4 linked regions of the Homo sapiens genome follow. The protein of the gene in region 1 binds, or shares a complex with, the protein of each later gene. Each region holds a gene or a part of one and is shown on either strand. Other genes may lie near its edges. The genes, in order: FBXL17, KEAP1, SKP1 and BACH1. A codon is read from its position in the direction of its gene.

What was found.
Region 2: the proteins of FBXL17 (region 1) and KEAP1 are in contact, whole or in part, in a crystal structure (PDB 6W66), measured with the Homo sapiens proteins. Residues at the interface, in NP_001156787.2 of Homo sapiens: Asp395, Arg397, Arg421, Lys423, Asn447, Gln473, Tyr475, Met524, Arg548, Asn572, Cys574, Leu575, Trp577, Glu596, Tyr598, Val600, Ser601, Asp623, Trp626, Lys628, Tyr647, Met651, Arg652, Val676, Leu677, Asp679, Cys680, Thr683, Leu684, Arg686; in NP_036421.2 of Homo sapiens: His59, Thr60, Ala63, Ile66, Met67, Glu69, Leu70, Gln75, Leu76, Gln82, Lys84, Ala90, His96, Val98, Ala101, Ser102, Ser103, Ser104, Pro105, Val106, Lys108, Ala109, Met110, Thr112, Asn113, Gly114, Val122, Ser124, Glu126, Gln163.
Region 3: the proteins of FBXL17 (region 1) and SKP1 are in contact, whole or in part, in a crystal structure (PDB 6W66), measured with the Homo sapiens proteins. Residues at the interface, in NP_001156787.2 of Homo sapiens: Pro319, Asp320, Ile321, Asn322, Leu324, Pro325, Ile328, Lys331, Ile332, Phe333, Ser334, Asn335, Leu336, Leu338, Asp339, Glu340, Cys342, Leu343, Ser344, Ser346, Leu347, Val348, Cys349, Lys350, Trp352, Arg353, Gln364, Arg370, Gln371, Val373; in NP_733779.1 of Homo sapiens: Lys78 (codon at 2,178), Glu79 (codon at 2,175), Lys80 (codon at 2,172), Arg81 (codon at 2,169), Gln97 (codon at 2,121), Gly98 (codon at 2,118), Phe101 (codon at 2,109), Ile104 (codon at 2,100), Leu105 (codon at 2,097), Asn108, Leu116, Asp117, Cys120, Lys121, Val123, Ala124, Ile127, Lys128, Gly129, Lys130, Thr131, Pro132, Ile135, Arg136, Phe139, Asn140, Ile141, Lys142, Asn143, Asp144.
Region 4: the proteins of FBXL17 (region 1) and BACH1 are in contact, whole or in part, in a cryo-EM structure (PDB 8UAH), measured with the Homo sapiens proteins. Residues at the interface, in NP_001156787.2 of Homo sapiens: Asp395, Arg421, Asn447, Gln473, Gln498, Glu499, Met524, Arg548, Cys574, Leu575, Tyr598, Val600, Ser601, Asp623, Trp626, Met651, Arg652, Val676, Gln678, Asp679, Cys680, Arg682, Thr683, Glu685, Gln689, Trp692; in NP_001177.1 of Homo sapiens: Val20, Leu21, Ser23, Leu24, Gln27, Val32, Leu33, Asp35, Phe39, His48, Arg49, Ser50, Val51, Ala53, Ala54, Cys55, Ser56, Ser57, His60, Ser61, Arg62, Val64, Asn72, Thr74, Pro76, His116, Asn117.

Annotation. Positions count from the first base shown.
Region 1 is NC_000005.10:107,857,328-107,861,702, forward strand, and holds the end of FBXL17 (F-box/LRR-repeat protein 17), read right to left. Parts: 3' UTR 1,708-4,375; downstream 1-1,707. UniProt on the Homo sapiens protein: Substrate-recognition component of the SCF(FBXL17) E3 ubiquitin ligase complex, a key component of a quality control pathway required to ensure functional dimerization of BTB domain-containing proteins (dimerization quality control, DQC).
Region 2 is NC_000019.10:10,499,640-10,508,605, forward strand, and holds the start of KEAP1 (kelch-like ECH-associated protein 1), read right to left. Parts: upstream 3,718-8,966; 5' UTR 3,602-3,717; intron 3,133-3,601; exon of another isoform or gene 3,058-3,132; intron 442-3,057; 5' UTR 395-441; coding exon 1-394. UniProt on the Homo sapiens protein: Substrate-specific adapter of a BCR (BTB-CUL3-RBX1) E3 ubiquitin ligase complex that regulates the response to oxidative stress by targeting NFE2L2/NRF2 for ubiquitination.
Region 3 is NC_000005.10:134,158,893-134,167,703, forward strand, and holds part of SKP1 (S-phase kinase-associated protein 1), read right to left. Parts: intron 8,352-8,811; coding exon 8,278-8,351; intron 2,239-8,277; coding exon 2,095-2,238; intron 1-2,094. UniProt on the Homo sapiens protein: Essential component of the SCF (SKP1-CUL1-F-box protein) ubiquitin ligase complex, which mediates the ubiquitination of proteins involved in cell cycle progression, signal transduction and transcription.
Region 4 is NC_000021.9:29,336,114-29,344,924, forward strand, and holds part of BACH1 (transcription regulator protein BACH1), read left to right. Parts: intron 1-6,285; coding exon 6,286-6,720; 3' UTR 6,721-8,811. UniProt on the Homo sapiens protein: Transcriptional regulator that acts as a repressor or activator, depending on the context. Binds to NF-E2 DNA binding sites. Plays important roles in coordinating transcription activation and repression by MAFK.

The sequences.
Region 1 (4,375 bases):
GAGTTTCTGATTTAGTAGGTCTCATGTGGGGCCCAAGAATTTGTGTGTCTCAGTTCCCAGGCAATGTTGATGTGATTGATCTGGGGGCTATACTTGAGAACCAACTCTATGGACTAGGTTGATTGGCAAATTTTCTCTGTGAAATGCCAGAGTAAATCTTTCTGACTTTGTGGATCACATGGCCTTTGTGAAACCACTCAACTCTACTGTTGTAGCATGAAATCAGCCATAGAGAATGCAACAACAAATGGGTATGATTGTGCCCCAAGAAAACCTTATTACAAAGATATGTGTCTGGCCACGTTTGACCCAGGGTCCACTCTTTGCTGATCCCTGTTCTAGACTGCTGTTCGCGTTTTGTCCCGGGCCACAGGAGCTTTCTTTTGCTTTCTCGCAGGTATATTGGTCACTTAAGAAGGTTTTTAAAAAATATTTTAATGAACATTTTTAGATGTTACATAGCAGAAAATCTTTCAGGATCTCCTTTCCATTATATCATTAGAAGTGGAAGTCCTGCATTTTAAATTTCTACTTGTTTGAATAATTTAGGACAATGCTTTTCTAGCAGATCTGATTTTTCCCACAAGTCCAGTCTCTTTAGTAGGCCATAAAATGTTTATGATTTGCCCTTGTTTTCTTCCTGGAACCTTTCCCACCTGCTGCCTCTATATAACATACCTTCCTATTAAACTCAGTTACCTCAAGGGCCCTGCTCTTTCCATGCTATCTCATTCCCTCATGCCTTCGCACATACTTTTCTATTTTCCAGGTTGCCTTCCATTCCTTCCCCCAAGCAAAGCTGGTAAATTCCCGCTACTTCTCTAGCCTTCATGAAAATCCTCCTCCTCTGTGGAGCTCTCCCTTCCCAAAGCTGCTGCTCGGCCCTAGATGCGCTCCCCATAATTATGCCCATCATTATATCTATTGTACTCCACTGTTATTGCTAGTGCCCCACAATGTCCCCTTGTTAGGCTGTGAGTAACTTGAGAGTGGGAGTGAGTTCATTTATCTTTAAATTTCCAGTGCCTATACGTATTTGTCACTCAATAAATGTTTTATGAATTTATTTACTTTGGAAAAATAGAATATATGGCTATATAAATGATGACTATTTAGGAAATGGGATTTTAACAACTCATTTGATACGGTTTGGCTGTGTCCTCATCCAAATCTCATCTTCAACTGCAGTTCCCATAATCCCCACGTGTCGTGGGAGGGACCCAGTGGGAGGCAATGGAATCATGGGGGTGGTTTCCCCCATGCCATTCTTGTGATAGTGAGGAAGTTCTCATGATATCTGATGGTTTTACAAGGGGCTTCTCCCTTTGCTTGGTTCTCATTCTTCACTCTCCTGCCACCTTGTGAAAAAGGACTTGTTTGCTTTCCCTTCTGCCACGATTTTAAGTTTTCTGTGAGTCGATTAAACCTCTTTCCTTTATAAATTACCCAGTCTCAGGTATACCCTTTTAGCAGCATGAGAATGGACTAATACACACTTATGTAAATCCTTGAGATTTTAATCTTATCTCTATAATCACCAGCCCAATTAGAACCTCCTAAACTCAGTCTCGTTTATTATTCTGGGTTAGTCAAACCTACATAAGTCTGTAGTGAAACACAGAAATACACAGACCACTGCATGCATCATACCCAACCAGCATTGGGGAGGTCATTTATTGTCTCTAAAATAAAACAAAAGACACAGTGTTTTGTTTCTCTTTTATTGCAACCCACTGCAAGGTCAAAGATTCACGGAAATATAGAAACTACAAACCGGGTGAATTTTCTTTATCCACTCAAAAAGACATTAAAGACAAAGGACCAGAATTTTCCACTACAGCAATATATTTCATAGTCTTTATTCTGAAAATACTGTTGACATTTTGGAGAGAATAAAAAGCCCTGCATTAAACGTGTTCACATGTATTTATGACATTCTAAGCAAAAAAAAGAAACTCTATATTGCCCAGAAAAATTATTTTAAGCCTCATTTCAAAGCATCTAATGAGAACACATTCAACAACCATCACAGGACCACTCAAGGTGATGCTTTTTTCTGGCTGTTTTTTTTTTTTTTTTTTTTTTTTTTTGAGATTAATGCTTTGAGGCTGGATATGGTATTTCTACGGATTTCTACAAATGTACCAAAGCAGTTTTCCAGATTATGTTGCATCAGGCTTTCTGGATTAGTCAACATTTTAGAGAATAAGTGCAAGTCCCCACCCCACCCCCACCCCCCCAAGCTAAAGCATGTTATAGTGCTGTACTTTAGATTCAAACAATGCAACATTTAAAAAAATCAATTATACATTCTGAAACCATTTGACAACCAAACTGTAACACTCCAAAGGTTATTACAACTTTGAACTGAAATGGTACCATCTATATCATAGATGGCTCTCCCTTCTTTTGTCTTTTTTAACTATTTAAAATATAGTATGACATATATAAAAATTAAACTTTTGCATATTCACTCAAGCTACTATTACTATACATACTGTCTTATAAATTAGTTTTGGATTAAAAATCAGTTAAAATATTGTGAAATAAGATATTTCAGTGGTGGGGAAGTGGATATGAAAATGATACAGTTCAATGTGTAAGAAGAAATATAGTTTATTAATGTTAAACAGCTTTTTTCTTACACAAATTTTATTCCCTTCAAATTAAATTAGAAACCCATTTAGTTATGGGAAGAATACTCATGGCGCTTACTGACTAGATTTTCCTAACCGATTGGGATTAAAACAAAAATGCCACATCAGAAACATGTTGACATAATCAAAGGAAACAGTTGTTTACAAAAAAAGAGAATCATTAGAAATCAGTAAATGGCATTCAAATGTAAAGCTATCTTGTTTCTTACAGCTAATGTCATGTTAGCAATGTGAGACTTAAAGAAAGTGAAACTCAAACCTCAGTATATCTGTTAAAGACCAAATAACAGTTATATTCACTCAGGGAAAAATAAATAGCAACTTCACAAGTTAGGGTTTTGTTTCTAGTTCTACTGTGAAAGATAATCACTCTTTAGCTTAAAAAGGCTCCCTGATGTCCTCATTATAAATCTAGACACAGGAACAGTTATTTGAGCCTGAGTCCCTATTATGAATTAATTGTAAAGATGTGTTAAATCAAAACATATATTCATTTACTGATAGGTCTTGTCTTAACTGAAGCTGGCAATCCTTAATTAAACAAAGAAATGCTTATTTCTGACAAGTGTAAACAGAATTTCAATGAACAGATTTTCTAATTTTCTTTCTTAACTCATATATTAGCTAGCAATAGATCTTTGCAGTAGCATGAGAACTAGTCCAAAATGACAACATGCATATATCCAAAAAACCTGTTCAAGAACCCAAAGCAAAGCAAAAAGAGCAACAACAGTAGAAAGATTGTCTACTTATATCTCACTCATGAATCTTCTATTAATGTGACTACCCTCTCGTATCTCAGAAATAGACTTTAATAATTACCAAAATTAAGAAAATAATGAAATGATCTGTAGTTTTTAAAATAACTGCACACCATTAATTACATTGGTGGCTTCAATGCTAAGATTAGTTTCAAATATCATTAAAATATATCCTGACCAGTTACTATCCAGGAAATAAAAGCTAACACAATGTTAACATAAAACCAACTAAAATATTTAGTGCTCAACAGAATGCATTTGTAGAATAATGTATAATTAACTTTCGTGAGCTGGCCAGGAGAGTTCAGACTGTTGCCTCTATATAACAAATTTAGAAAAGGCTTTATTCTTTCTAGTCCCCAAGTCACCCACCAGATAGCAAGTTGGCCACCCGAGGATACACGGAGTTAGGCAGTGCCACAGTGGATAACATGCTACCTTAGTGGCCTGGAAGAAGGCTTCTCTGTCAGGAAACGATCTAGAGTAGATCAGAGCCCTGGTGTAGATGTGCACACGTGTGAATATGTGAGAGAGTGTAAGTGCCTGTACGTATAACATCACTTCTGCTGTAGTCATCATCAGTAGAAGTGCACAATTCATCCCATGTAAAAAGAAGGCCTTCTTACTTGGACATCTCCAAGTGGCAGCAATTAGAAGCTCAAAATAATACATCCAATTTTTTGACTCTATATTAAAAATAATTTTTTTTTAAAGAGAAAGAAGCCTTTGAAGTTAAAAACTAAAAAGTTTGTGGCTTTCATAATCTTTAATTTCTAAGAAAAAAAGCCAGCTCACTTGGGAACAAATGACAACTGCACTTTTGGTATGCAGTATGCAAACAAGACACAAATACACATACTTGAACACACACAGACAGGTGACAGTTAAAACCCTTCCGAGAGATCAGCTCCCCAAATGTACAATTCTCCTCTGCTCTGCTGAATGATCCCAGTGGAC
Region 2 (8,966 bases), on another chromosome or scaffold:
CCTTGGGGTGGATACCCTCAATGGACACCACCTCCATGCCCTGCTCCCGCAGCCCGTTGGTGAACATGGCCTTGAAGACAGGGCTGGATGAGGCCAGCACCACCTTGTGGGCCATGAACTGGGCGGCCGGTGCATCCTGGTACTTGACCTGCAGTGTGACGTCACACAGCTGCTGGCTGAGCCGCAGCTCGTTCATGATGCCAAAGGCCTGCTTGGTATGATCCTCCAGGGTGTAGCTGAAGGTGCGGTTGCCATGCTGGGAGGGCGTCACCTCCGCCTTGCACTCAGTGGAGGCGTACATCACCGCGTCCCCTGCCCCCTCAGGGCACTGTGACTGCAGGGGCAGGAATCGGCAGCAGGCCCCAGCCCCGCTAGGCCTGGGATCTGGCTGCATGGGGTTCCAGAAGATAAGCAACACCACCACCTCTGGCACTCAGGGACCTGGAGGGGAGAGAGCACAGGGCAGAGGGCAGGGGTTGGGACTGGGCCAGCACCTGCCGGGCCTCGTTTTGCAAGATAAAGCAATTCCTAGGTCAGTTTTCCTGCAAAGTAGGTGAAGCAGAATCCATTTGCAAACTTGCAAACTTCCCCGACCTGATCAACCTGATTGGCCCAAGAGCCCATCTTAAAACATACATGAAGTCATGTCTCTCCCCTGCTCTGGATCCTCCAATGCCTCCCACAGTACCTAGTAAAACTGAACTCCTCAACAGCCTGCAAAGCCCTACGCAATTAGCCCCTGCCACCTCTTCCCTTTGATCACTCTGCTTCAGCAATCTGGCGGCCTTTCCCTTTCTAGAGCATGTTGAGCTCATTCCTTCATTTGCCTCACCATTTACTGGGCACCTACTGTATGCCAGGCACTGATCTGGGTGCTGAAGACACAGCAGTGAGCAAAATACAAAAATCCTACCCTGCCAGAGCTGACAACTGCAGGGAGGAGCAATCATAAACTAAAATAAGCAAGACCTGGAAAAACAGCTTCATGAAGAAAATTACAACAGCATTGTGACAACGTGAGAATCGGGTGCAGTTTGTTTGCTTTTTTTTTTTTTTTTTTCAGATGGAGTCTCTCTGTCACCCAGGCTGGAGTGCAATGGCTCGATCTTGGCTCACTGCAACCTCCGCCTCCCGGGTTCAAGCGATCCTCCTGCCTCAGCCTCCCGAGTAGCTGGGACTACAGGCGTCCGCCACCACACCCGGCTAGTTTTTGTATTTTTAGCAGAGACTGGGTTTCGCCATGTTGGCCAGGCTGGTCTCAAACTCCTGACCTCAAGTGAGCCGCCCGCCTTGGCATCCCGAAGTGCTGGGATTACAGGCGTAAGCCACCATGCCTGACCCGGGGTGCAGTTTTTTAAAATCTGGCAGACCAAGCCTCTTTGAGAAGGTGAGGTTGGAGCTGAGACAAGGATGAAAATTATTATAAAGTGGGAGGCTGGGGAGTAGTTTTCCAGGCAGAGGAAACAGTAAGTGCAGTGGCTCAGAGGCTGAGACAGTCAATCTGGAGAATTGGGAAGGAGTGCAGTGAGAGCTAAGGACTTAAGGAAGGGTTTCATGGAAACCCCTGGATCCTGGAGGGCCAGGAGATGAGTTATGTGTTTTGTGTTTTGTTTTTCGAGACAGAGTCTCGCTCTGTTGCCCAGGCTGGAGTACAGTGGTGCGATCTTGGCTCACTGCAACCTCTGCCTCCCGAGTTCAAGATATTCTCGACCGGGCGTGGTGGCTCACGCCTGTAATCCCAGCACTTTGGGAGGCCGAGGCAGGCGGATCACAAGGTCAGAAGATCGAGACCATCCTGGCTAACATGGTGAAACCCCATCTCTACTAAAAATACAAAAAAATTAGCCGGGTGTGGCGGCGGGCGCCTGTAGTCCCAGCTACATGGGAGGCTGAGGCGGGAGAAAGGCGTGAACCCAGGAAGCAGAGCTTGCAGTGAGCCGAGATCGCACCACTGCATTCCAGCCTGGGTGACAGAACAAGACTCCATCTCAAATAAAACAAAAAAAAGATATTCTCATACTTCGGCCTCCTGAGTAGCTGGGATTACAGGCACCAGCCACCACGATGGGCTAATTTTTTGTATTTTTAGTAGAGATGGGATTTCACCATGTTGGCCAGGGTGGTCTCAACCTCCTGGCCTCAAGTGATCCCCCTCCTCGACCTCCCAAAATGCTGGGATTACAGGCATAGGCTGCTGTGCCCAGACGTGAGTTACGTTTCAAAAGGAGTGGGGGATCTCCAAGTGGCTCCCCACAAGTGGATCTGCAAGTTCTCACTCCCCTCTTTCTGGGACTCAACTCAAAGTCTCCTCTTCCCTGTTTTATTGTCATCACTGCGCTTGTCAGGAACTGAAATGACCTCCTTTGCTTGTCTGTTGATCGACTGTCTCTCGTCCCCGGCCCCAGCGCCTCAAATGGCAGGGAGACCTATGTAGGTCGGCGTCGGGCCAACCCTCTCCTGTGCCTCTCGCCTGGGGCCTGGCACTGCGCAGGGGTCAATAAACGGGTGGTTGGCTAACTGCCCTGCCACCGTGCCTGCCAGAGCGGCCTCCTCCACCCTCCCTGGGTGCCACTCGGCCCCCACTCTGGTGCCAAGGCCCTGGGTTTGCCTCTTGGTCTTTGGCCAATCGGTCAACAATGCCCCTTGGGCACCGGGCACTTCCCCCACCCTACAAAGCGGCAAGTGGGCGACTGCGCATGCCCCTCCTGAGCCTCCACCAGGCCCAGTGAGGCGAGGAAGTGACCCCACCGCGGCCTCTCGGCTGCCAACCCCAGAACGCAGATCGAGCCCCTCAACGCCTCGGAGCCCCCGGGCCTCCTTCTGCGCAGCGCCTCCTGGTTCTCTCGCTCGGTTTCCGCCGCTCCCGGGCCACCCCAAGAGTTGCGCCGTCCAACAAAAATATCCACCCAGGTCGCGCCCTCCTGGCCCTCCGAGTCCTGGCGGGGAACTCGGAGGCGCCCTGGGCCGTGGCGCCCGTTTTCCTGGTCTCCGGGCACGGCCGCAGGGGCGCTCGCGGCCCGCGATGCCCGCAGCCCGGGCACATCCCGCCTCACTCACCCCGCCATGGCCGCGCTCCGGCTCCGCCTCCACCGCCCGAGCCCCGGCGCCTCCATCGCTGCGCGTGGGGGAGGCGCGGAGCGCGCGCAGGTCACCATGACTAAGCAGAGCCGGGCGCCCGCCGTGTCACAATAAAAGTCCCCGGGCCCTGGCCTCAGGCGGTAGGGACCGCTGAGGGGCCGCTCCCCACCCCCGCCCACGCCTGCTGTCGCCCAGCTGCGCGGCCACCACGGCGCCCAGCATGGCGGCGGGGCGGGGGCACGCGACCCTGAGCGCGCTTAGCCGCGTGGTCCGAGTCGCGGGGAGTCTGAACCCCGAGTTCCAGGCCTGCGCGCCCCGGCCCGCACCAGGGGTGGGGTGGACACCCCTCCCCGTCGCTGCTGCCCAAGCGCTCACCTCAGCCCCCAGGTCGCCTCCGTAGGGGGTCCCTCGGGGTGGGGATGGCCGGGGCGCGCAGGGGCTCCGGGCACAGTGATGCCACCCGCGCACTGCGCTTCCGGGAAGCCGGGGGACCGCGACCCAGTCCAGGAGATTCCTGCCTTACCTTGGCTGTAGGGGACCCGCGGGCGCCTCCGCCGTCGGGGGGCCTCGGCTCCAGGGCTGCGTGGCCTGCGGGGTCTTGGTTGTCGGTTGGGGAGCGGCCTCGGGACGCCCGAAAAGGAGGCGGGGAGAGGGCGGAAAGGGCGCGGCGGGAAAGGAGCGGCGATTCTCCCGCCCTTCCCGCAGGTGCCCGGCGCCCGTCGGCGAGGAGTGGGGCATCGGGCGGGGGCGCACAGCCAGGCCCCCCTTCTCACTGTCCCTTCCATCTCCCGATTTCGTTGCTGGATGTCTCCTCGCGGGGCTGCGCGCCACCATCTGCTATTCTCCTTTTAACAACGCACAGCGCCGGCCTCGTGGTCCGGCGGCCGCAGGATCTAGGGAAAATTATCTACCTCGCTAGGTTTTCTTTTCTTTTCTTTTCTTTCTTTCTTTCTTTTTTTTTTTCCTTTAGAGACAAGGTCTCGCTCTGATCTGCACGCCCAGGCTGGAGTGCAGTGGCGCAATCGCGGCTCACTGCAGCCTTGAGCTCCTGGCCTCAAGCGATCCTCCCACCTCAGCCTCCTGAGTAGCTGGGACCACAGACAGGCGCCACCACACCCGGCTAATTTTTAGTTTTTGTTTGTTTGTTTGTTTTTCTGTAGAGATGGGGTCTCGCAATGTTGCCCAGGCTGGTCTTGAACACCTGGGTTTAAGAGATCCTGACTCCATTGGCCTCCCAAAGTTCTGGGATTATAGGTGTGAGGCGCTGTGCCCAGGCCTCAGGTTTTCCTTGTCTTTTTTTTTTTTTTTTTTTTTTAATTGAGACAGAGTCTCTCACTGTCACCTGGGCTGGAGTGCAGTAGCTCGATCTTGGCTCACTGCAACCTCCGCCTCCCGGGTTCAAAAAATTCTGCCTCAGCCTCCCGAGTAGCTGGGATTACAGGCGCCCGCCATCATACCCAGCTAATTTTTTGTATTTTTAGTACAGATGGGGTTTCACCATGTTGGCCAGGATGGTCTCAAACCCCTGACCTCATGATCCGCCCGCCTCGGCCTCCCAAAGTGTTGGGATTACAGGCGTGAGCCACCGCGCCCGGCCTTCCTTGTCTTTATTTTTGATTTACTTCCTATCAAGAGGCGTGTGGCACCCGTCTTTGGGGGGTTCAAACCCTGGATCTGCCTCTTACCAGCTCAGTGCCCGTGGGCGCTTACTTAGTTCTCTATGGTTCAGTTTCCTCTCTATAAAAAGTAATAATATAATAGCACCTACCTACCAGATTATCATTAAGACTAAATGCGGGGCCGGGCGCGGTGACTCACACCTGTAATCCCAGCATTTTGGGAGGCCGAGGCAGGCGGATCACGAGGTCGGGAGATCGAGACCATCCTGGCTAACATGATAAAACCCCGTCTCTACTAAAAATACAAAAAATTAGCCGGGCGTGGTGGCGGGCGCCTGTAGTCCCAGGTACACAGGAGGCTGAGGCAGGAGAATGGCGTGAACCCGGGAGGCGGAGCGTGCAGTGAGCCAAGATCACCGCACTGCACTCCAGCCTGCGCCACAGAGCGAGGCTCTGACTCAAAAAAATAAATAAGTAAATAAAAAATAAAAATATTAAATGCGAATGCTGGCTCCCAAGAGACAGAAACCATTGCTATTTTTCATGACTGGGGATACTGATTTGTCATGCACACCGTTTATCATGTAACGTTAACTTTTAAATAAATGTATGTAAGTTTATTTTAAAGAATTCATCTAGGCTGGGTGCGGTGGCTCACATCTGTAATCCCAGCACTTTGGGAGCCGAGGTGGGTGGATCACGAGATCAGGAGTTCAAGACCAGCCTGGCCAACATGGTGAAACCCCCATCTCTACTAAAAATACAAAAATTAACCGGGCGTGGTGGCGGGCGCCTGTAATCCCCAGCTACTCGGGAGGCTGAGGCAGAGAATTGCTTGAACCCGGGAGGCAGAGGTTGCAGTGAGCAGAGATCGCGCCACCACACTCCAGCCTGTGCAACAGAGTGAGACTCTGTCTCAAAAAAAAAAAAAAAAAAAGAAAAAAAAAGAATTCATCTAAATTTCATCCAAATTATAATTATTTTTAAAAGATAGAGAGGCCAGGCGCAGTGGCTCATGCTTGTAATCCTAGCACTTTGGTAGGCCAAGACGGGTGGATCACCTGAGGTTAGGAGTTCGAGACCGGCCTGACCAATATGGTGAGACCGCCGTCTCTACTAAATACAAAAAATTAACCGGGTGTGGTGGTGGGTAAGTGAAGGTTGCAGTGAGCCGAAATCCTGCCATTGCACTCCAGCCTGAGCAACAGCGCGAGACTACGTCTCGAAAGGAAAAGAAAAAAAAAAAAGATAGATGGGATTTCGCCATGTAAGTGAATAATAAATGGAAACTCTAGGCCCCTGGAGCCTCCAGGGTGAATTTGAAAGATTGAACGTCCTGGCTCAGGGTCTGGAAGGAATCACGTGTAGGGCTACGTTGGAGTTACCCCGCTACCCCAAATCCTTGTTGCGTGTAGATGCAGTTCCAGACAGCTCCTCAGGGGGGCGGCCTAGATAGTCCGTGAACACGCTGAGTGGCCGAGGTTGTAACCAGCGCCTTCCTGGCACGTTGCAGAAAACAACCTCTCTAATATCTCTCAAAATCAAACCTACAGGTCCAGTGAGCCAGGTGCTTGTAGAGATTTATCCAAGGTGCACTCGCACACATACAGGAGGAAGCATGTGCACACATTCATTGCATTATAATGCATATCATGGCAAAAGGACTGGATCCCATTCACATGTCCCTCTGTAGAGCCCTGGCTTAATCAGTGGTGGCACATCCTTGCTAAGAAATACTATGCAGCCAGTTAAAAGGAGCAGTACATTTACTGTATGGATATGTACCTAGATCTTCTATTTTTTCTTTTCTCTTTTTCTTTTTCGATTTTCATTTATTTATTTATTTATTTATTTATTTATTTTTGAGACGGAGTCTCGCACTGTCACCCGGGTTGGTGTGCAGTGGTGTGATCTTGGCTTGCTGCAACCTCTGCATCCCGGGTTCAAGCGATTCTTCTACCTCAGCCTCCCAAGTAGCTAGGATTACAGGTGCCTGCCACCATACCCAGCTAATTTTTTGTATTTTTAGTACAGACAGCGTTTCATCATGTTGGTCAGGCTGGTCTTGAACTCCTGACCTCGTGATCCTCCCGCCTCGTCTTCCCAAAGTGCTGGGATTACCGACGTGAGCCACTGCACCCAGACTCTTTTTTTATTTTATTTATTTATTTTTCTTTTTTTGAGACAAGGTCTTGCTCTGTCACCCAGGCTGGAGTGCGGTGGCACAATCATAGCTCACTTCAGCCTTGACCTCCTGAGATCAAGTGATCCTGCTGCCCCAGCCTCCCAAGTAGCTGGGACTACAGTCACTCACTACCACACCCAGCTAACTTCCCCCCACCCTTTTTTTCTTTCTTTTGTAGAGCTGGGGCTTCACCATGTTGCCCAGGCTGATCTCGAACTCCTGGGCTCGACGGATCCTCCCTACTTGGTCTCCCAGAGTTCTGGGATTACAGGTGTAAGCCACCACGCCCCACCTCTTTTTTTTTTTTTTTTTTTTTAACAGGGTCTTGCTGTCACCCAGGATGGCGTGCAGCAGTGCAATCATGGCTCACTGCAGCCTCGAACTCCTGGCTCAAGCCATCCTCCTGCCTCAGCCTCCCAAGTAGCTGGGACCACAGGTGTATGCCACCACACTTGGCTAAGTTATTTCTTTTTTGTAGAGATGGTGTCTCACTATGTTGCCCAGGTTGGTCTCAAACTCCTGGGCTCAAGTGATCCTCCTGCTTCAGCCCTGCAAAGTGCTGAGATTACAGGCATAAGTCACTGTACCTGACCAGGCCTCTATTTTTTTAATGTAAAAAAAGAGCCAGGCCCAGTGGCTTACGCCTGTCATCCCAGCACTTTGGGGGGCCGAGGCGGGCAGATCACCTGAGGTCAGGTGTTCGAGACCAGCCTGACCAACACAGTGAAACCTCGTCTCTACTAAAAATACAAAATAAGCCAGGTGTAGTGGCGCATACCTGTAATCCCAGCTACTCAGGAGGCTGAGGCAGGAGAATCACTTGAACCCCGGAGGTGGAGGTTGTGGTGAGCTGAGATCGTGCCACTGCACTCCAGCCTGTGCAACAAGAGCAAAACTGCATCTCAAAAAAAGAAGTGCTATGGACCAAATTATGCACCCGTACCCCCTTTTCGTGTGTTGCAGCCCTAACCCTCAATGGAATGGTATTTGGAGATGGGGCCTTTGGGAAGCGATTAGGTCTAGATGAGGTCATGAAGGTGGGAACCTCATGATGGGATTAGTGTCTTTATAGGAAGAGCACACCAGAAAGTGTTCTCTCTTTCTTTTTTCTTTTCTTTTTTTTTTTTTTTTTTTTTTTTGAGACAGGCTGGAATGCAGTGGTGCCATCTCCACTCACTACAACCTCCGCCTTACAGGTTCAAGCAATTCTCCTGCCTCAGCCTCCTGAGTAGCTGGAGTTACAGATGTGTGCCACCACACCCAGCTGATTTTTGTATTTTTAGTAGAGATGGGGTTTCACCATGTTGGCCAGGCTGATCTTGAACTCCTGGCCTCAGTTGATCCACCTGCCTCAGTCTCCCAAAGTGTTGGGATTATAGTCATGAGCTACCTCGCCCGACCTGCTCTCTGTTTCTTTCCCCAACATGTGGGAACACAGTGAGAAAGCGGCTGTCTGCAAGCTCAGAAGAGAGTCCTCACTAGAACACAACCATGCTGACATTCTCTTTTTTTGAGACCATGTCTCGCCCTGTCGCCCAGGCTGGAGTGCAGTGGAGTGATCTCCGCTCACTGCAACCCCTGACTCCTGGGTTCAAGCGATTCTTCTGCCCCAGCCTCCGGAGTAGCTGGGATTACATGCGCATGCCGCCACACCCAGGTAATTTTTTGTATCTTTAGTAGCAACGGGGTTTCACCATGTTGGCCATGCTGGTCTCAGATTCCTGACCTCGTGATCCACCTGCTTCGGCCTCAGTGCTGAGATTACAGGCGCGAGCCACTGCTCCTGGCCTTTTTTTTTTTTTTTTTTTTTTTTTTTTTCCGAGACAGAGTCTCGCTCTGTAATCCAGGCTGAAGTGCAATGTCGCGATCTCAGCTCACTGCAACCTCCACCTTCTGAGTTCAAGCAGTTCTCCTGCCTTAGCCTCCCCAGTAGCTGGGATTACAGGCACCTGCCACCACGCCTAGCTAATTTTTTTTTTGTATTTTTGGTAGAGACAGCTGTTTCACCGTGTTGGCCAGGCTGTTCTCGAACTCCTGATCTCAGGTGATCCGCCTGCCTGGGCCTCCCAAAGTGCTGGGATTAC
Region 3 (8,811 bases), about 26 Mb from region 1:
GTCTTGGCAAAAATATTTGTCCACACTTAAAGAGTTCAAACGTAAGCAGTTATAGCACTATATTGATCTCATTTTAAAAAACAGGTTTTGGTTTCATTGACTTTATTGTTTACCTGTTTTCTATTTCATTGATTTCTGCCCTTTAATATTCTCATTCTTCTGTTTACTTTGTAGTTAATTTCATCTTTTACTAGTTTAAGGTGGAAGCTTAGATCACCGATTTGAAACTTTTCTTCTTTTCTAATAATATAGGTATTTCATTCCATCAATTTCCCTCTAAGTACTTCTTTAGCTGCATCTCACCGATTTTTCATGTGTTTTACTTCCACTCAGCTCAAAATACTTTCTATTTCTTCTCTGACCCATAGGTTACTTGCAAATGTGTTAGTTTAAAAGTAGTTGCAGATTTTTCCAGATACCTTTCTGTTTGTGATTTCTAATTCCATTGCAGTCAGAAGACATACTTTGTATGACCTGAATCCTTTTACAATGGAGACTTTTTTTTTAAGACACCGTCTCACTCTGTCACCCAGGCTGGAATTCAGTGGCGTGATCTCGGCTCACTGCAATCTCTACCTCCTAGGTTCAGCCAATTCTCTTGCTTCAGTCTCCCAAGTAGCTGGGATTACAGGTGGGTGCCATCTCACCCAGCTAATTTTTTTTTTTTTTTTTTGAGACGAAGTCTCGCTCTGTCACCCAGGCTGGAGGGCAGTGGTGCGATATCGGCTCACTGCAAGCTCCACCTCCCGGGTTCATGCCATTCTCCTGCCTCGGCCTCCCGAGTAGCTGAGACTACAGGTTCCTGCCACCCCACCCGGCTAATTTTCTATATTTTCAGTAGAGACGGGGTTTCACCATGTTAGCCAGGATGGTCTCGATTTCCTGACCTCGTGATCCGCCCACCTTGGCCTCCCAAAGTGCTGGGATTATAGGCGTGAGCCACCGCGCCCGGCCTAATTTTCGTATTTTTAGTAGAGATGGGGTTTCATCATGCTGGCCAGGCTGGTCTTGAACTCCTAGCCTCAAGTGATCCACCCGCCTCACCCTCCCAAAGTGTTGGGATCACAGGCGTGAGCCACCGCACCCAGCTGAGACTTGTTTTATGGCCCAGAACATGGTCTATTTGGTAATATACACTTGAAAAGAATATGTATTCTGCTATCATTACATATAATGTTTTAGGCCAGGCGCGGTGGCTCACACCTGTAATCCCAACACTTTGGGAGGCCTAGGTAGGTGGATCACCTGAGGTCAGGAGTTCAAGACCATCCTGGCCAACATGGTGAAACCCCATCTCTACTAAAAATACAAAAACTTAGCTGAGCATGGTGGCTCATGCCTGTAATCTCAGCTACTCAGGAGGCTGAGGCAGGAGAATTGCTTGAACCTGGGAGGTGGAGGTTGCAGTGAGCCAAAATCATGCCACTGCACCACAGCCTGTGTGACAAGAGTGAAACTCTGTCTCAAAAATATATATATATATAATATTTTATAAATATCCATTAAGACAATTTGGTCAATAGTGTTATATCAAGTTATCCTGATTTCTGTCTAGTTATATTAATTGAGAGAGGTGCTGAAATCTCTATGATTGTCACTTTGTGGACTTCTTTGAGTTCTATTGGGTTTTGTTTCACTTCTTGGAAGTTCTGCTTCTAGCCAGATAAAAATTTATAATTGTTATGTCTTTTTAAAAAACTGATCCCCTTATCAGTATGAAATAATCCTCTTTAACCCTGGTAATATTCTTTGCCTCCAAACCTATTTTAATATAGTCACTCCAGCTTTCTTTTGATTCGTGTTAGTGTACCGTATCTTCTTCCATTCTTTAAACCTAGTTCTGTCTATATATTTAAAGCGGGTTTCTTACAGACAGCACAGCTAAGCTTGCTTTTCTGATCTGGTAATTTCTGCCTTTTAACTGTGTTTAGACCATTTACATTTAGTGTGTTACTGATATGTGGATTTAAATATGGCGTTACATTTGAATTTAGAGAGTATTAAAATTCAGTGTCAATGAAGTTAGCAAATTTAAATCTATAAGAAGTGTTTAAAGGCTCTAGAGTAGAGCTATCTTACACATTAAAAACTTACCAGAATGAGTTCAAAAAGTGTTCCTTGGTCAACTTTCAGGAATTCTTGGTCCCAAACAGGGATATCATCTGTTCGCTTTTCTTTGTTCTCATCATCTTCAGGAGGAGGAGGGTCATCCTTGTGGTGGGTGCACCACTGAATGACCTACAACAACAAAAGTTCATTCCTCTGTGGCACTTTGTCACAAGGTACTCATTCCACTGCTGGGACAACTTATCCCTATATTGGAATAATAACTAGCTAGAGGTTGACTTGAGCCATTAACAGCCAAGCTTGAAAAACAAAAATGAAGCTTGAAGAATCATTATAACCCTAGAAGGGAGAAGATCTTATTAGATAAAAGCAAGCCATGCAGACAGAGTACTGTACTTGACTACATTAAAAAGCTTCTATGCAAAAAGAAAAGTTAGGACAATGACTGGAAGATACCTGCAATATGTACAACAATGATTAGCTGAGAGAATATAAAATCTTTCAAAAATCATTAAAGAGAAATGGGTTAATATGTACAGCCAATAAATGAAATCTGAATAGCCAAACATAAGGAACGCTCAACTTTACTAGAAGCAAAACTAACACTACAGATACTTCTCTAGATTGAAAAAAAATCAAGAAACTGATACTAATTGTTGGGCAATAGTGGAAAGGAAACACAAACTCTTCTAGAGAGTATAAATTGGTATAACCCCTTTGAAAGCTAATCCAGCACTCCTCAGAAAAGCTGAATATGTACATATATTGTAACCAGCAAATTCCAAATACCCTAGACACATGTGTGAGACTATTTGGTGTAGGAACAAAGCAGGAAAAGCCCCAAAATTTCCTTAATAGGAGAATAATTACTCCATAAAGTTTCAGGAAGCTGATTACTTAGACTATACATACCAGCATAAAGACCAAAATCAATACTGAAAGTGTTTTCAGTTGTAGAATCTAGGCAGTGGCTACATGGTTGTCTACTGTGTAATTCTTTCCATTTTTCTGTATGGCTAAAACTTTTTCATAGCAAAATGTTGGAGGAGTAAACAATGCTGAGAGAAAATGGCAGAGCCAAGAAACATTGCCAGGATCCAAAAAAAAAAAAAGAAAGAACAATTTCAATAAGGAAAAGCCAAGCAAAGGGTTGTTTGTTTGTTTTTGAGACAAGATCTCACTGTGTCACCCAGGCTGGAATGCAGTGCCGCGATCATGGCTCACTCGACCTCCTGTGCTTAAGCGATCCTCCCACCTCAGCCTCCCAAGTAGCTGCAACTACAGGTGCATGCCACCACACCTGGCTCATTTTTGTATTTTGTTTTTGTAGAGATAAGGTTTCATCATGTTGCAAACTCCTGAACTCAAGCAATTCACCCACCTTGCCCTCCCAAAGTGTTGGGATTACAGCTATGAGCCACTGTGCCTGGCCAGCGAAAGGTTTTTGTTTTCGTTTTAATTTTGAGACTGAGTTTCACTCTTGTTGCCCAGGCTGGAGTGCAATGGCGCTATCTTGGCTCACTGCAACCTCCACCTCCTGGGTTCAAGCGATTCTCCTGCCTCAGCCTCCTGAGTAGCTGGGATTATAGGTGCCTGCCACAACACCCAGCTAATTTTTTTTTATTTTTAGTTGGCCAGGCTGGTCTCGAACTCCTGACCTCAGATGATCCACCCCCCTTGGCTTCCCAAAGTGCTGGGATTACAGGCGTGAGCCACTGCACCCAGCTAAGGGTTTTTAATGAAATAAATAATAGCTTTTTAGGAAGTATTCCAACTATATAAGAAAATTTAAAAACGTCAATATTTGCTTATCCAGGCATTTTTTAAACTCTAAACCTGGGCACAGTGGTTCATACTTGTAATCTCAGCACTTTGGGAGGCTGAGGCAGGACTGCTTAAGGCCGGAAGTTCAAGAATAGCCTGGGCAATATAGAGACACCCCGTCTCTACAAAAAATGATGATAATAATAATAGGCTGGGCACTGTGGCTCACACCTGTAATCCTAGCACTTTGGGAGGCCAAGGTGGGTGACTTACTTGAGCCCAGAAGTTTGAGACCAGCCTGGGTAACATGGTGAAACCCTGTCTCTATGAAAAATACAAAAATGAGATGGGACTGGTGGTGCACACCTATGGTCCCAGCTACTCAGAAGGCTGAGGCAAGAGAATCACTTGAGCCCAGGAGGCTGAGGCTGTAGTGAGCCATGATCGTGCCACTGCACTCCAGCCTGAGCAAGAGAGTGCGATTCTGTCAAAAAAAAAAAAAAAAAATCACTATCACTACTAACAAAAAATAAAAATTTAAAAATAAAAAACTCTTAAAAGGATATATAAAGAAACTAATGCCTAGGTTCACAACGGGTGGTGCCAGTAAAAAAGAAAAACAAAAAAATGCCACATTACTTTGTGGGGGGAGCAGTTTCCAATCAGATAAGAGACAGGGAAAGGAGATTTTATTGTACTTCCATAGTTTTGGCATCATGTAATTATTCTTCAAAATATGATATATATTCAATACAAACAGGCTTAAAAAAAAAAAAAACTTCTCGGCTGGGTGTGGTGGCCCACACCTATAATCCCAGCACTCTGGGAGGCCAAAGGAGACAGATCGCTTGAGCCCAGGAGTTCCGGACTAGCCTCGGCAACATGGTGAAACTCCATCTCTACAAAAAATACAAAAATTTGCCAAGTGTGGTGGCATGTGCTTGTACTCCCAGCTACTCGGGAGGCTGAGGTGAGAAGATCACCTGAACCCGGGAGGTAGAAGGTGCAGTGACCCATGACTGCACCACTGCACTCCAGCCCAGGCAACACAGTGAGGCCCTATCTCAAACAAACAAACCAAACAAACAAAAAAACCCCAAAAACCAAGCACTTCTCATTCTCAGAAGTGGCCCTACATCACCCAACCCTTTAACTCTGACCTTATCTACTCACTTCTTGCTCTAGCTTCCACTAAACTCCTTGCCTTTCCTAAAAAGGCAGGGCATGCTCTTGTCTTAAGGTCACTGTACTTGCTCCCAAATCCCAGAATTCTTTTCCCCCAAATATTCACGTCTTTGTTTAAAAGATTATCTTCGGCCAGGGATGGTGACTCAAGCCTGTAATCCCAGCACTTTGAGAGACTGAGGCAGGCGGATCACCTGAGGTCCGGAGTTCGAGACCAGCCTGGCCAACATGGTGAAACCCCATCTCTACTCAAAATACAAAAAATTAGCCGGGCGTGGTGGCGCGCGCCTGTAATCCCAGCTACTGAGGCTGAAGCAGGAGAACTGCTTAAAGCCCGGAGGCAGAGGCTGCAGTGAGCCAAAGTTGTGCCACTGTACTCCAGCCTGGGCAACAAGAGCAAAACTCCATCTCAAGAAAAAAAAAAAAAAAAAAAAAAAAAAAAAGATTATCTTCTCAGTAAGACATCTCCTGACCATCTTTATTTTAAAAACAGCTAACTGTTCACCTACTCACCCCTTTAAATTCCCCATTCCCTTCTTTATTCTCCATAGTTTTTCCATTTGATGTATTTCTAATGTTGCATATTCCCCACCCCTTCAGACCATAAACTCCATAAGGGCAGAGATTTTGTCTCTTTGGTTCACTGCTATACCCCCAGCTTTTGGATGGCATTTGAATGTACCAGGCATTCGACTACAAGCAAAGATCCTTTTAGAAACATTTTTCATTAGTATAAAATAGAATACGTTAATTGCAAGACATATTCAGAAGTCATAAAGAATGAGATCTAACTAGATAAAATAAAGCCTCTAAATCGTAACATGAATTAACGTAAGACAAGCAAACTGGTAGAAACTTTTAAAGAGTTCTTATAAAAAGCCTATTAGATAATACCACTGAATTGTCACTTAAAAATGGTTAAGGTGGTAAATTTTGTTATGTGTATTTTACCACAATTTTTTAAGCTCATTAGACAACAACATGGATGAACCTTGAAAACATTATGCTAAGTGAAATAAGCCAGATACAAAAGGACTAATATTGTATGATTCCATATATTATGTATCCAGGATAGCTAAATTCAGATACAGAAAGTAGAATAGTGTTTACCTAGCGTAATTTTTTTTTTTGAGGGGGGAGGGTGTACCAATTTTTTTTTTGAGGGGGGAGGGTGTACCGAAATTGGAAGTTACAGTTTAATGGGTACAGAGTTTCAGTGTGGGATGATAAAGTTCTGAAAATGCTTAGTGGTGATAGCTGCACAACACTGTGAATGTAATTAATGTCACTGAATGGTGCACGTTCAAAAAGTGAAAATGATCAATGTTATGTATATTTTATCACTATTTTTCTAAGACCATTAGGAAAACAGAGAAATGAAAACAGACAATGCAGAAAATGTAAATGGCCAGTAACACATGTAAAAACATTCACACTTTGGGAGGCCAAAGCAGGCAGATCGCCTGAGGTGAGGAGTTCAAGACCAGCCTGGCCAACATGGTGAAACCCTCATCTCTACAAAAATAAAAAAATTAGCTGGGCATGGTAGCGGGTGTCTGTAATCCCAGCTACTCGAGAGGATGAGGCGGGAGAATCACTTGAACCCAAGAGGCAGAGGTTGCAGTGAGCTGAGATCGTGCCACTGCACTCCAGCCTGGGCGACAGAGTGTCTGTCTCAAAAAAAAAAAAAAAAAAATGCCAGGCTCGGTGGCTCATGCCTGTAATCCCAGCACTTTGGGAGGCCAAGGTGGGCAGATCACAAGGTCAGGAATTCAAGACCAGCCTGACCAACATGGTGAAACCCCATCTCTACTAAAAAATACAAAAATTAGCCAGGCGTGGTGGCGAGTGCCTGTAATCCCAGCTACTTGGGAGGCTGAGGCAGGAGAATTGCTTGAACCTGGAAAGTGGAGGCTGCAGTGAGCCGAGATTGTGCCACTGCTCTCCAGCCTGGGCAACAGAGTGAGATCAAAAAAACAAACAAACACAAAAAAATTCAGGTTAGCCAGGCATGGTGGCTCCACCTGTAATCCCAGCACTTTGGGAGGCCAAGGCAGGGAGATCGTCTGAGGTCAGGAGTTGGAGACCAGCCTGGCCAACATGGTGAAAACCTGTCTAATATAAAAATTAGCCAGTGTGGTGGTGGGCATCTGTAATCCTAGCTATTCGGGAGGCTGAGGCAGGGAAAATTACTTGAACCCGGAAGGCAGAGGCTGCAGTGAGCTGAGATCACACCACTGCACTCCAGCCTGGGCAACAGGGCGAGGCTCCATCTCAAAAAAAAAAAAGATGCTATATATTAACTAACATAGACATATCACCTTTCATTTTGTTATATGGAAAAAAAAAAACATAGAAATGTATAGTTTGCTACCTTAAGAATGGGGGAGAATGCTGGGCGCGGTGGCTCACACCTGTGATCCCAGCACTTTGCGAGGCTGAGGTGGGCAGATCATGAGGTCAAGAGATCAAAACCATCCTGGCCAACATGGTGAAACCCTGTCTCTACTAAAAATACAAAAATTAGCTGGGCATGGTGGCGTGTGCCTGTAGTCCCAGCTACTCAGGAGGCTGAGGCAGGAGAATCACCTGAACCCAGGAGGCAGAGGTTGCAGTGAGCCGAGATCATACCACTACCCTCCAACCTGGCGACAGAGCAAGACTCTGGTCTCAAAAAAAAAAAAAAAAAAAAAAAAAAGAATGTGGGAAAAAAATATACTTACTTGTTAATACCTGTATTACAAAATACTGAAAGGATAAATTGCTACCTGAAAGGGGACTGGAATAGATAAGGACAGAAATGGGAACAAAGTGTTACATATTCCTTTGACTTTAGCCGTTTCAAAATTATAAATCTAAGAAAGACAGTCACGATTCAATTCCACCATGCTCTAGAAGTGGTATCTTTACAGAAGACTATTTAACAGTATCTATCAAAATTTAGGTATATAAGCCAACCTGCGATCCAGATATTCTACATGTAGATCATCCTTCCTAGGGAAGTGTTTGCATAGGTAGACACAGTACAGATGCCCAATAAATGACAATAGTCAACTGTGGCAAGAAAGCAGACAGAACTTTTTTCTGTATATTTTAAGAACATACAAACATCACTCAAGTAAGTGTTTAAGAACATTCAAATTTAAATGTAATTTTAAGCAGTAAATTATAAAATTCTAACATAGATTGTTGAATTACTTGTATTAATCAATTGGTGTTATATATTAAGCAGAATAAACTTAAACTCTTTAAAGACCTTACCTTTTTTAATATTGCTGCATTCACATTTGGTAGAGGAACTGGGTCATCATCTCCTTCATCATCCATTCCCAAATCTAAGAAAACCAGAAGAAAGTTTCTATTTCCTAATTCCATTATAATACTTATACCAACCAGGCTATGTCTCAAAACATAAGAGTCAGCCCCCATATCCATGAGTTCTACATCTGTGGATTCAACCAACCACAGATTAAACATATTGGGAAAAAAAATGGATGGCTGTGTCTTGCACTAAACATGTAGACTTGTTTCCTGGTCATTACTCCCTAAACAATACAGTATAAAAACTATTTGCATAGCATTTACATTGTATCCGGCATTGTAAGTAATCTAGAGAGGGGTTTTTTTTTTTTGAGACAGATTCTTGCTCTGTCGCCCAGGCTAGAGTGTAGGGGCGCCATCTCGGCTCACTGCAAGCTCCGCCTCCCGGGTTCACACCATTCTCCTGCCTCAGCCTCCCCGAGTAGCTGGGACTATAGGCACCCGCCACCACGCCCGGCTAATTTTTTGTATTTT
Region 4 (8,811 bases), on another chromosome or scaffold:
GCATTTGATTAAACCTGTTTAGTCTCTTAATCTAGAACAAGTACTCTCATTGTTTTAATGACAATAACTTTTTGAAGTATCCAGGCTGGATTTCTCATAAATGTCTTACTTTAAGTTATTTGTCTGATTGCTTCCCCATGGCTTTAAGTCATTTCTCCATCCCTTTACTTCCCGTAAACTGGAAATGTTTGAGTTGAGGAGACTGAGTTTAAACATTCACTGGTGTTGTCCTTTATATTGTGTCGCCTAGGGAGGCAGGAGGTCCAGTGTCAGTATTGTCGTACCTGGGTAGCTGGGAAGTGCCAGATTGCTCCATTTTCAAAGTAATATTTTTTCAACCTGTGTTGCTTAGTTATCTATGATGTGTTACTTGGGCACTTTATAATTATCCCGTTCCCCAATACTCCTGCATCCTTTAGAATATGTTGATGACCTTCACTGTGATTACCATGATTACAAAATCATGATTTTTCTAAATCTTTCATTCTATTTACATTATTTTAGTTGGTATTCCTGATTAAAAAGGATTGTTCTTCCTTTCTTTCTCTTTTATTTTTTTATTTTTTTTTGAAACAGAGTCTCACTCTGTTGCCTAGGCTGGAGTGTGGAGTGCAGTGGCGTGATCTCAGCTCACTGCAACCTCTACCTCCCAGGTTCATGTGATTCTCCTGCCTCAGCCTCCCGAATAGCTAGGACTACAGGTGCCCACCACCACACCTAGCTAATTTTTGTATTTTTAGAAGTGATGGGTTTTCATCGTGTTGGCCAGCCTGGTCTCGAACACCTGACTTCAAGTGATCTGCTTTCCTCAGCCTCCCAAAGTGCTGGGATTACAGACATGAGCCACCATGCCTGGCCTTTTCTTGTTTTCTCTTTTCCCTCCCTCCCACTCTTTGGAATCACAGTGGACTCATGGATTAATTTTTTCTGATTCAATTTGTTAGGATAAGTAATAGTCATTATTCTTTTTGATGTTGACATTTTTCAAATTTGGCCTGGGAGAGCCCGTTCAAGCCAGCTCCTGTCCTGTTGACATAACCATCTAGCACTTGCCATGGTCTCACTTTTTAACCTCTATTGTTTCAAGATTTGGAATCACCCATTTCTTTAAAACTCCTGGTTTCTTCTAGCAGTTATATTGGACTTTGGAAAGCCTACCTGCTGCTGGAGTATTATTCCTTCTGGGCCTTTTTCAGTGGACAGAGCTAGGAAATATATGCATCTGTGTATAAAATAAAGTTCATTATATCATGAATTCATATATATCAGGCTTCAGTAAATGAAAGTAAAAAGTACATTAGAAATCCTGAGTTTATGTAGTATTTCCAGTCCAAATTTAGCAGTATAGAGCTTTTGTCTTCACTTCTGTGTTTATGTTTAATCTCTCATCATTTACAGGAAAAATTTTGGCTCCAATTACATTAGTGTATTGTTTCCTTTATAATATACAGTAAGTTCTCACTTAACATGAAATGATGGATAATGAAACCAGTTTTTTTCCTCATCAACTTTATAATGAAAGGATGTTGTAAAAATGAGAACACTTGGACACAGGGTGGGGAACATCACACACCGGGGCCTGTCGTCGGGTGGGGGAGTGGGGAGGGATAGCATTAGGAGATATACCTAATGTGCCGGGTGCGGTGGCTCAGGAGTTCGAGGCTAGCCTGGCCAACATGGTGGTGCAAACCTGTAATCCCAGCTACTCGGGAGGCTGAGGCAGGAGAATCGCTTGAACCTGGGAGGTGGAGGTTGCGGTGAGCTGAGATCATGCCATTGCACTCCAGCCTGGGCTACAAGAGCGAAACTCCGTCTTAAAACAAAAACAAAAACAAAAACAAAAACAAAAAAAACGAGTTAATGGGTGCAGCACACTAACATGGCACATGTATACATATGTAACAAACCTGCACGTTGTGCACATGTACCCTAGAACTTAAAGTATAATATAAATAAACAATAAAATAAAAAAGAAAGGATGTGGAACAAAATGTTTATTGAGGACCTGGTGTGCGTTGTTTCTCTTAAAGTCAGTTTCCAAAAACCTGTCGATGATTTTAAGTGAGGGCACACTGTATAAAAAGTAAGAAAATTAGACAATCAGTATTACTATTAACAGTAAACAAATTGAGCAGAATTTGAGATTTATTTGCTTTTTTATGCTTAAATATTTCCCAGTGTGAAGCTTTAAAGTTATTTGAAATATTTGTGTTACCAATTTGGCATACAATTAATTTTTTTTTCTATTTATATTACTGGGATTTACTCTACATTTTTTGAGACAGGGTTTCACTCTGTCACCCAGGCTAGAGTGCAGTGGCACAGTCATGACTCACTGCAGCCTTGACTTCTTGGGATCAAGCAAATCCTCTCATATCAGCCTTCTGAGTAGCCAGGACTACAGGTGCGCACCACCATGCCCGGGTAATTTTTTTGTGAAGGTGAGGTTTCGCTGTGTTGCCCAGGCTCCTCTCAAAACTCCTGGGCTCAATCGATCCTCCTGCCTTGGCCTCCCAAAGTGCTGAGATTTTAGGCATGAGCCACCATGCCTGGCCTACATTTTTAATTTGTTTTATTTTGAATGTAAAACGTTTATATGGTTCAAACATTAAAACTATATTTTAAAAAATATATACTCCAAATCTTGATCTCATCTTCTCCTTATACCCTATTCATAGCTACTTCCTATAGGTAACCATTTTCATTAGTTTCTGGATTTTTTTTTCCCTGTGTTTCTTTTCTAAAAATGTGTTAACATTTTATGTCTACTCTTATTATCCATCCTGCTGCATGGAAGTATTTTATATACATTTTTCTGTACTTTTTAAACTTAAGAATTGATTTATAGGAAATATTTTTTCTTAGTTCAGAGAGGTTGTCATTCGTTTTCCAGCTCCATAGTACTCAGTAGTGACTGTAATACAGTTCAAACCAGTCTTCTGTGGGTGGACAGTTGGGATCCTGCAGTGAATAACTGTATACTGTTTCATGTTTAAGGAGCTGTGTCTCTAGGACACATTCCTAGAAGTGGGATTGTTGGATCAAGGGTAAATACATACATAATTTTATTAGATATTAACAGATTCCCCTCCTTAGGAATTGTCATATTTGGCCTTCCAGCAGCAGTATATGTGTGTGTGTCTGTCCACACCCTCAGTCAAGATTTGTTGTCAGCTTTTGGGTTTTTTCCAGTCTGATAGTGAGATACCATGATATCTCGTGGTAGCTTTTATTTTTATCTTATGAGTGAAAATGAGCATTTTTGCTTATATTTCTCAGTGCCATTTGCAGATTTCTCTGAACTGCCGTTCAGAGGTTTTACTTACTAAGGAACTATTAGTGACCATTTTCTAACAGTGAGTACTCTTTACCCTATCATAAAATTGTCACTTGTACTTTTGGTGCCAAATTCTTCTATATCTTTATTGGGTGAGTTATATTTATGATCTTTAAAAAAATTATATTTGAATAAATATTGTGCACTAGCTATTCAAAATAAGGATTTAGATGCAAAGGTTTTTTTTTTTTTTTTTTTTTGAGACAGAGTCTTGCTCTGTCACCCAGGCTGGAGTGCAGCGGCACAATCTCGGCTCACCGCAACCTCCGTCTCCCAGGCTCAAGTGATTCCCCTGCCTCAGCCTGCCCTTTTAGCTAGGTTTACAGGTGTGTGCCACCATGCCCAGCTAATTTTTTTGTATTTTTATTAGAGACAGGGTTTCACCATGTTGGCTAAGCTGGTCTCGAACTCCTGACCTCACATGACCCGCCCACCTCAGCCTCCCAAAGTGCTGGGATTACAGGCGTGAGCCACTGTGCCCAGCCTGTAAAGATTTTTTGTTGGTATAAAATCCAGAATGGTACCAGAATGCCAATTTTATTCCTTTTTAAGAAATAGCTCTAATTAAAGGTGCAGCACTTCAAACGTGATTTATACAGTTGTTTTTATAGGAAAATGGAAATATATTGTAGGGATAGGTAGCAGGACACTAATAGTGAGTCCCACTCATGACTGTAAGTAGTGACTTTGGGAGGTATCTTAAATACTGATGTCATTAAGTAATTAACTTGAATTACTTGTATTTTACTTTTAGTTATTAAGCTGACTGCTATTATAGTAAATATGTGTCTTAAACTTAGAGTGAAATGGAAACTGCTTAGAAGCTTAGCTGTGTAGGAGTTAAAGTGCAGGGGAACAGATGGGAACATTTAATTTATAGAAATAATTCTGGTGGAGTTCTAGGGCTGTGCCTATTTGTTTTAGTTGTTGTGAAGAAGCAAGCCATCTTGTATACTTAAAGAATGATGTCATCCCTAATTTAGTGGGGTGGGAGGAGTGAGAGTATTTAAAGATCATGTGGATATTAAGATACAGAAGTCATAAAATATTTGTAATCTTCATAGTATCTGTAGGTTAAGTAGTGGTTCTAATTTCTGGGAGGAAGCTCAAGTACTCCTTATTTTGTTGAACCATATTTAATTTAAAAGACCAACCAGCAGTTGAAAATTTTCTATTGCTGTTTAGAATAGATTCATCCCAACTTTGGTAGAGGAGTCCATGGCTGAATATTGCCATGAGTGAAGAAAGATTCTTTCTCACTTTCTTCTGGAAGCTTTGTTTTCATCCTCCTTTGGATTGGCTTCTGAGAGACCATAAAAAGAAATGGGTGTTGATTGCATTTAATGGTTCCTACTGTGAACAAGCAGTAGGTACCGTTCTTGCCCTTTCAGTATCTGCAGACTCATTTTATCAGAAGAGTGCAACTGATAAACTTTGCATAAGAGAAAATGTACTGGCCAAACATTGATTTTGCTTACATACACATACTTAACACGCACATTCTTGACCTACATCTATTTAAAAAAAAAAAAAAAAAGAACTTGTATATAAAAATCTGAACAGATTGGAGAATACTTTGCCATATAAAAATTTAGTATTTTGTATTTATTGTATATTTTCTCAAAATATTACAAGGCTTTAAAATATTTTAGAAATAACAATAATTGGATTCATACATAATTTTATAGTAATACTTTTGTATAAAACCATAACAATACTTTTGTATAAAGCAAAATTCGTTTTACCCTTTTAGTGACTTTTATGTCATAAAAGACTAAAGGATGGCACTTATAGATTAGCACTATGAACTAACTTGTCTCAAGGTTAACTGGCAGCCTCAACTCTCCAGAACCTGTCAATGAACAGAAAGCAAACAGAACAACACTGACTTGTTGAGAGTTGTGATAAATTTCATAAGAAAAACGTTTGACTTTCTAGCAAGTGTTTATTTACTCTTTTCTTATAAATACCTTGATTATTTGGTTTCCTGGCTCATAATAGATTAGAAGCAATAAGATGTTAGAACAAGAAGGATGAAATGGGATGATAATAGAAAAGACATGCTGTCAGCAGTGATAAGTGACATGGACAGGAAGGCAGGAACCAGAAAAACTTTTGAAAAATTCTGTGGTAGACTTTCTTATAGGGGTAATATCTTAAAATTATAATAATAACAAAAATGGTAATTAGCAAGCACAAAATTACCCCCCCGAATTCTTCACACTTTAGTAACTCACCCACCGGCTGTCTCTAGGCATCTTAAATTCAGTCCCATCCCTTCAGTGGGTTTGATGTTGCTTAAATCAAGAGAGGTGTTGTGTGGATTACATAGCTGAGATTGCATGTTGGAAAACATTTAGCACAATATCTGTCAGAGAATCTGCTCAACAAATGCTGGTCATTAGTTGAATCTTGCAATGCTTTGAGTCTCAGTAATTAAGTTATGCTAACTGTACTTTTACTTTTTTTCTTGTATCCCATCCAAAATGCCATCCATACCTGTTATGTACAGTCTGTAAATCCAGAAAGCTCCAAAAACCGTATGTTTGTCACAAACTCTTTTGACCGAAAAACTGCCCCAAATTGACATTAGACTACATAGTCTTTATCCTACTTTCTTCATTATTTGCTATTTTAATGTTTACCTAGAAATGTAAAGATAGTTGATAGGGAAGTGCTGCCCCAGGCCTGCTAGAGAAATTATGTGTGCACCCATACTGTCTTTCCAAAACCTGAAAAATGCTTTGTGCCAAAATACATCTGCCCCAAGAGTTTTGGGTGGGAGATTCTGGGCCTTTAGTATTTAATGTATAATTGAATGGAATTGAAAGGATAAACTCCATGTGATCTTACTTGATGAGAAGCCCCTGTATATTATTTGATCGCCTTGGAAATGTTGATTGAGCTAATAAACACAAGCCATTGTGTTCTCTTTCCCCACTTCACAGCAAAGTGAAAAGGAGAGCTTGTTGAAGGAAAGAGATCACATTTTGTCAACTCTGGGTGAGACAAAGCAGAACCTAACTGGACTTTGCCAGAAAGTTTGTAAAGAAGCAGCTCTGAGTCAAGAACAAATACAGATACTCGCCAAGTACTCAGCTGCAGATTGCCCACTTTCATTTTTAATTTCTGAAAAAGATAAAAGTACTCCTGATGGTGAACTGGCGTTACCATCAATTTTCAGTTTATCTGACCGGCCTCCAGCAGTGCTGCCTCCCTGTGCCAGAGGAAACAGTGAGCCTGGCTACGCGCGAGGGCAGGAGTCCCAGCAGATGTCCACAGCCACCTCTGAGCAAGCTGGGCCTGCGGAACAGTGTCGTCAGAGTGGTGGGATCTCAGATTTCTGTCAGCAGATGACTGATAAATGTACTACTGATGAGTAAACTTGCATTCACTTCCTTCAAACCATCTAATTTTCTCCTGAAGTTTTGGCAGCGTCTTGAAAGCCTAATATGACCATCTGTTGCTCAACAATACTGTTTTTTTCCTTTAGTAGTTTACCATAAGGGAATTTCCTTTAAGTCAACCATGATTTCTCCTTGATTTCTACAAGAGACAAAGAAATGATTTTGCCTCCTGGATATCAGAAAAATCCATGTGAAAATGTAGTAAACCTTTAAAACTCATGTTTTAAAGAATAATAACTCTAGTAATAACTCTTCCTGCTATTCAGAATAAGTAGGAGAATGAAAACTGCAGCATATCAGACAGCAATTTAACAGCTTGAAACATCTACAGATAGTTCCTACTAAAAGAAGTGGCCTGCAGAAGTTTAATAATTTGACTTTTTTCTAATATTTTAGTTTGAAAGAAAATTTCTTCCCAAGCAATGCTAATAGAGTTCTATTCTTAGAAGCAGGGTGTCAGCTACTGGGAATATTTTTGTAGAGCTGCATTGTGAAAAAAAGATGGTCTTACCTGAATCTTAGGGCTTTGTTCTTCGGCTCCTAAAATCAGGCTTTAAGCTACATTGGGAAGATTTAGTAAATAGGCAAGTGGTTGGCCTAAGACGGGGGCTGCTTCTCCTCTTCAGTATGGACTCTAGAAAGTCTGGCTACATGAATAGATTTAAGTGTCACTTTCCCTCCCTGCCCCCCGCTTCAGTCTCTACCATATCTGGTCCCATCATGGACTTCCTATTTCCTGGCATTTTTGTCCCTTTGGAAGAAGAAATAGGACTCAGAATACAGTGGCATGAGTGATTACACTGGCAGCATTATCTCAGGCTCCCTAGAATCTGGAGAGCTTACCAACATGTAAAGCTGTTCATTTTTCCACCGTGGGTCACCAATGCCAGAAAACCAGACATCACGGGGAAAGAATGTTGCTTACTTTTTACCAGGAGTGCAGTTCATTTTTTTCACCCTGTTTTTGAAGTCGTATTATTCACTTGTAAAAATGATTGTAACAGATAAAAAATGTATCTGCAGCAACTCTGCAGGTTTGTGAAATAGGATGAAACTCAATCTTTTTCTATTGTGGGTTTGCATTTGAAAAGCAGGTTGAATCCTTGCTCTCTTCTCCAAATTTGGTGTGGTATAAAGACACACAAATCATTTTAACTTGGACATTTAAAGATCAGTCTTAGTGTTTGTTCAGTCCTGTTACAAAATAGATAACTGAGCACCTATCGCATAACATTTTGCGGTGGCTTTTAGCCATGCTGGGGTTAGATGTGTTTGAGAGTCAAATGAAAGCTATGGATCTTCTCAGCAATTAAAAAAAATGCATATATTCACATTCACAGAAACATTGGCAGAACCCAGTTTTAATGGTACAGAGGAGTAGTTTATAGTGTTGATTTCACCAAAATCAGAGGGCTGAAAGAGACACTTCTATAGACTGCATCCTGAGCCTAGTGCAGGGCTTGTCTAGCTAATGTGGGCAGCCACCACCCACTGTGTATGAACAAGTCTGAAGCAAGTTGGCCTTGCCCTTGAGAGTATATGGGGACCAGTCTTCATGTCTTGGAGTAATTTGTCAAATGTTACCCTTTTTGATCAGGGTGTAGGGGGAGGATATTGCTAGTATATTTTCAGTGGTTTGTATGTTCTCTCTGTCACTGACTTATTTGTAAGAGAAAATTAGTTGGACTTGTTTATTTTCTAGTAGCTTTTATAAGTACACTCAAGAATTTGTCAGGGAGAATAATTCTGATAGTGCATCCCATACTGCAAAAGAATTTGTGTGTGTGTGTGTGTGTGTGTGTGTGTGTGTGTATGTGTATGTATACATATATATCTCTCCATATAGGTATTTCTTTGATACTTGTAATTTTAAATTTCAGCTTCACGATATAAAATAATATAAGAACTTCTGGTTTACAAAATGTAAAATCTTAAGCCAATGGAACCCTTGATTTCCTACCTCAGTGTACACCCAACTATTGGTTGTATCAGTTTGTGTATGTGCAAATGTCAAATAATCTTTTGCTTTAATTGCTACTGTACTTGCTTTGAAAGATTACCTACTAT